Regions from separate parts of the Homo sapiens genome. Here region 1 is linked to region 2. The links come from fine-mapping of genetic effects on gene expression. A gene starts in region 2. The other region holds a variant in brackets. All regions are shown on one strand. Distances are from middle to middle. Region 1 has its middle 5.9 kb from the start of FKBP11. Region 2 holds the start of DRC2 (dynein regulatory complex subunit 2).

What was found. PIP is the estimated chance that this variant, and not a neighbour inherited with it, causes the effect.
Region 1: its variant is the best candidate, but not a certain one, in a credible set for the expression of DRC2 in whole blood (INTERVAL, PIP 0.55).

Annotation. Positions count from the first base shown.
Region 1 is chr12:48,929,941-48,932,839 of GRCh38, reverse strand. It overlaps a transcript of FKBP11 not described here. Among named protein-coding and RNA genes, the nearest start is that of FKBP11, 5.9 kb to the right of the region's middle. The variant A/G (reference allele first, on the strand shown) is at 1,045.
Region 2 is chr12:48,902,753-48,905,668 of GRCh38, reverse strand. It overlaps DRC2 (dynein regulatory complex subunit 2), which reads right to left and starts at 1,536. Exons shown (of 8, transcript NM_033124.5): 1 at 1,201-1,536; 2 at 556-723. The coding sequence starts at 1,332. It also overlaps the pseudogene RPL32P27. RefSeq lists a silencer at 1,530-1,579.

The DNA.
Region 1 (2,899 bases), 27 kb before region 2:
TCCAGGCGAGGCAGCAGGTTTGAGAATGGGCTTGTCCGCCTGGCACCTGCTTCCCCCCACTTCCACCTTCACCCCTCCATCCCATATATCGTTCAGGGTCCTCCCAGCACAGAATTGAATAGAAGGACTTTTAAGGCTTGGAGGGCTTAGCTTGGGGCTCTAACCCACAGGAATTCTTTCTGAGTTCTGAATATAGTAATAAAGGGCACTCTTGGCCTTAGGTTATAGATAGGAGATGGGGAATCTGTTCTTGTCTTTGCCAAATCTTGCATTTATGGGATGATACCTCTTTGATTAGAACAGCCATAGGGGAAGAGTGGAGGAAGTAAGTAAGTGCTTCATTCTTGGATGAATATATGCATAAACATACCTGAAAGAAAACATCTAGTCAGCTGGGGGTATGTATACCCTTGAAAATACAACACCAGGCCAGGCATGGTGGCTCAATTCTATAACCTCAACACTTTGGGAGGCTTAGGTGGGAGGATAGCTTGAGCCCAGGAGTTTGAGATCAACCTGGGCAACATGGTGAGGCCCCATCTCTATAAGAAAAAAAAAAAAAAAAAAAAAAAAAAAAATATATATATATATATATATATATATATATATATAAATATATGTTTATATGATATATATACAATTATATGTTTATATTATATATATATATATATTTTTACTTTTATTTAAAAAAAATAGAGATGGGATTTCACTATGTTGCCCAAGCTGGTTTCAAACTCCTGGGCTCAAGCAGTCCTCCCACCCCAGCCTCCCAAAGTGCTGGATTTACAGGCATGAGCCATTGTGCCCGGCCAAAAAAAAATGTTTTTAATTAGTTGGGCATGGTGGCACGTGCCTGTGGTCCCAGCTACTCAGGAGGCTGAGGCAGGAGGATTGCTTGAGCCTGAGAGATTGAGGCTGCAGTGAGCTGTGTTTGCGCCACCGCACTGGTGACACAGCAAGACCCTGTCTCAACCAAAATCAAATTTTAAACCCAAATTTATATATGCCAACTCAGGCTTTTACTTTATTAACAACCTGTTATAA[A/G]TAAACACTTAAGAACATTTAAAGAGCAGTGTTCTGCTTATTCTTTGGCACATAATAGTCATGCAACCTTGATGAACAAATGGATGAATTAATAAACACCATTGTCTTTAATCAAGCTGGGCATGGTGGGTGCCCCATGAGTCTTGGAAGCCCAGGTACTGTGGTAGGGTTTCTCCTACACACTGACAGAGACACCTTTGAGTGTGGAGGCTTTTCTAGCAATGGTTCTGTGATTAAGTTGTATCTCCAGCCAGGGGTGGGCCAACTCTCCTATCTTTCCAAGAATCATCTCACCTTTCTCTGTTGTTTGGATTTCTTCTAACTTGATCCAAGGAAAAAGCTCCTTCTCTGGTCCCTCCAGGGTGCAGATGGGCTTGTGCTGCCTGTGGGTGGATATTGTGTTTAATAGTTTTGCCCTTTCCATTTCTACTACCACCTTCTCCTACTCCACTCCTCTTCCCCTTCAGGTTCCTGAACAGAGCCTCAGACCTGGATAAGACAATAGCCTTCCACCTTCACCACACTGTTCGAGTCTGCTGATACATCAGTGCAGTATGCTGTGTCATCCTTTTGCTTAGAAACTTGCAATGTGTTCCCACTGCCTTAGTCTGACATTCAAGGTTCTTCACAACTAGCCTTTTTTTTTTTTTTTTTTTTTTTTTTTTTTAAGCTGGAGTCTCGCTCTGTCGCCCAGGCTGGAGTGCAGTGGCGCGATCTCGGCTCACTGCAAGCTCCGCCTCCTGGGTTCACGCCATTCTCCTGCCTCAGCCTCCCGAGTAGCTGGGACTACAGGTACCCGCCACCACGCCTGGCTAATTTTTTGTAATTTTAGTAGAGACGGGGTTTCACCGTGTTAGCCAGGATGGGTCTCGATATCCTGACCTCGTGATCCGCCCGCCTCGGCCTCCCAAAGTGCTGGGATTACAGGCGTGAGCCACTGCACCCGGCCTACAACTAGCCCTTAATTCCCTCTCCAGCCACCTCTCTCTAGTCTCTGGCCAAATCCCTTACTTTAGCCAAATCAGTCCATTCATTTTTCCCAAACATCTGGCCCTCTGCCTTCACCTCCTTTCTCACTTGTTTAAAAATCCCACTCCAAGATCTAGCTCAAGTTTCACCTCCTCCACAAAGCTGCCTGTGCCCTCTGCAACTACAAGGACTTTTATAGTTTTTCCCCACGTTGGCTCCTTTAGCTCTGTTAGCACAACTCATTTAACACCTCCCACTCATTCCCTTGTATTGCTATATATCTTGTTTATTCGTGTAATATTTAATATTAAAAATTATTTTTATAACCTGAGAAGTAACATCTGAGCAGGAAAAAAATTATAACCAAAGTAATTTCTATTGTAAAAGATCCAAACAATACAAAAATATACAGAGCAACATGTGGGACATTGCCCTTACTCTTCTCTCTCCCATGCCCAAACGTAACCATCCTCAGCTATTTGATGTGCATCCTTCTAGTTCCTTTTTTAAATGTATGTGCTGACACATGTTTGTGGAGGGGTTAAAATATAAATGGGCTCATATCACATCTGTTATTCTGCTACTTGCTTTTTTACTTAGGGTATATATACATTTGTCTTAGAGATTTTCTATATTAGTGTAATTAGATCTCCTTTTAATGGCTTCTCAGTATTTCATAGTATAATTTCTTCAAAGTAAAACATACTGTCTAGAATCTATTATTTGGAGGCTATCGTGTAGCTAGTACTTAGCTCCAGACATGATTGCAACCTTGACCTTGCCATCAGTTAGCTGGCTCTTTGGGGGAGATAGGAAGGGAGGAATGGGGCATACACAAATAACTGCAACAAAAGGAAAAATATAATAATGTCCACAAGTGTATGCC
Region 2 (2,916 bases):
ATCAAGAACTCAAGAACCTCCCAAGAGCATAAGGATGGCTGATTGAATTGCTTAGAAATCCAGAACTGCTCTTACCCATGGAGATCTTCTCAACCTTATCCAGGGCCACTGAAGTTGAATCAAGAGGCCAAACAATTTAGTTGAATGGAGCACTGCAGTGGGAATCAATAAACACATGCTGGAGTCCTGGTTCTCTCACTGACTAGCTATGTGACCTTGGGCAAGTCAGTTCCCCTCTGGAACTGAGCCTTCTGACATTGAAATGAAGGTGTGGGACTCATTTCAAGTCACTGGGTGATGTCTACTGTGCCTTATGACTCTACTATTGGATAGTACTGGTTTTGGGCAATAGATGACAAGAAGAGTGGGTCCTCTAAGGGAGAGAGGGATGAAAGCCCAATATTCTATTTTTTATTTCTGTGAAAACCATTATTACCAATAGCCTGGCTTTCTCACAGCCTGTGTCTTGTGAGGGCTTTAAGATGGATTCACTAGGCTCATTCTATTAAGAGGTCAGGAAGCCATACTCAAGGTTTCCTTGGAAAGAGTGCCTACCTTGATGACATTGTCCTTACAGTCCACCACTCGTTCAAATGTTTGGCTGAGGATCTCAATGTCCTTATGAAGTTCTCTGGTCTTGACTTCCCGAAGGACAGTTCTCCACTGTGTGTTAATCTTATTAAGGTTCAGAGCACTGTTGTGTTCCTCCTTGGCCAGCTTGTCCTGTGTGAAGGAATAAATATACCTCCAGGAAGTCAGGGCCTTTCAGTACAACAAACAAGATCACTCTTAATTTATCAGCTGACACCTTACCCCTTTTCGATGGGAACGGCCTGATGGCATTTAGGGAGGGCAAGGGTGAATTTCCTTCAGGGTGGGAGCATCAGAGTAGGATGTTGTTTGTAATGACCTATCTCCAGGGAGAATATCAGCATTCCAGACAGCTGGAACAGCTGACAGGACCTACGGTCCCAGTTCTGGGATTCAGTAAAGATTGCCAAGCCGTATACCACGCACCCCCTCCGTGCTTCGCAGAGAACACCCCCGCCTCCCAAACAATGTTGCCTGAAATCTAAGTATATCTGGGTCTCAGGATTTCCGGAGGAGGGGAGGTCAGGATGAAAATGAGGTTTCCTCAGTGACAGGGCCAGGGCAGGGGGTGGATGGGGTTGAGCAGGACATAATGCAAAAGGCCATCACCTTCAAGAACTGGCTGAGGAGCCTCTCCTTCTTTTTGGCCATCTCCTCCTCTGCCAGCAACTTCTGCTGAAACAGAAGCAGCTGCTTCTCATCGGACAGGGGCGTCTTGGCCATTTTTTCTTTCTTAGGCATGGGGGCAGGGGATTGGATCCGGGAAAGAAGCCTCGGTCTGCCTCGGCCCGCGTTACAGAGCTTAGAAGAAAAATGTCCCTAGAAAGGGGACTTCCAGAAGTGCCCCTGGTTGTGGGCGGTTGTGGGACCGGAGATCTCAGCCCTCGAACAGGAGAGATCCCCGGCTATCAGTGAGGCTGAGCTCTCCCACTGTAAGACGCGTCTAGTCTCCTAGCAACGAGGATATCGCTAACATGGAGAGGCAACAGGCTAGAAGAGTCCCTGTCTTGGAGCGCCCCCTACCCAGTGGAGGACCGCGGTCGGTTTTTGAGAGGGTCCTTTTAACTCTCAAAAATCTGTCTCCTCAGTGCATTTTATTTATTTATTTATTTATTTATTTATTTATTTATTTATTTATTTTTGACATAGAGTCTCTCTCTGTCGCCTAGGATGGGCACGATCTCGGCTCACTGCAACCTCCGCCTCCCGGGTTCAAGCAATTCTCCTGTCTCAGCCTCCCCTCAGTGCACTTTTATAAACCGTCCTCAGAACCCTTGGGAAGCCCAAGATCGTCAAAAAGAGAACCAAGAAGTTTATCCGGCACCAGTCTGACCGATATGTCAAAATTAAGCGTAACCGGCGGAAACCCAGAGGTATTGACAACAGGGTTCGTGGAAGGTTCAAGGGTTAGATCTTGATGCCCAACATTGATTATGGGAGCAACAAGAAAACAAAGCACATGCTGCCCAGTGGCTTCCGGAAATTCCTGGTCCACACGTCAAGGAGCTGGAAGTGCTGCTGTTGTGCAACAAATCTTACTGTGCTGAGATCGCTCACAATGTTTCCTCCAAGAACCGCAAAGCCATCGTGGAAAAGAGCTGCCCAGCTGGCCGTCAGAGTCACCAACCCCAATCCCAGGCTGCGCAGCAAAGAAAATGAGTAGACAGCTCATGTGTATGTTTTCTGTTTAAATAAAACTGTAAAAACTGCAAACAACAACAACAACAAAAACCTTTTTTAAAAAGATAAGTGTTGGAGAGAATGTGGAGAAACGAGAACCCTCATATATTGGTGGTAGAAATGTAAAATGGTGTAGCCACTTTGGAAAACAGTTTGGCAATTTTTTAAAATGTTAAACATAAATTTACCATGTGACCCAATAATTTCACTCTTAGGGATCTGCCTAAGAGAAATGAAAGCATGTATACACACAAAAACTTGCACAGGAATTTTCTTATCTGTCTCACTCATAATAGCCCAGTTGGAAAAATTGGAGACAACCTAAATGTCCATTAACATGTGAATGAGTAGACAAAATATGCTATGTCCATACAATGGAATATTATTCAGAACAAACTATGGATACCAGCTACAATGTGGATGAACCTCAAAAAGAATATGCAGGCTGGGCGCTGTGCCTCACACCTGTAATCCCAGCACTTTGGGAGGCCGAGGCGGGAGGATCGTTTTAGCCCAAGAGATCGAGACTAGCTTGAGCAATGTGGCGAAACCCCTTCTCCACAAAAAATACAAAAGAAGTTAGCTGGGCGTGGTGGTGCGTACCTGTTGTCCCAGCTACCCCAGGAGGCTGAGGTGAGAAGATCA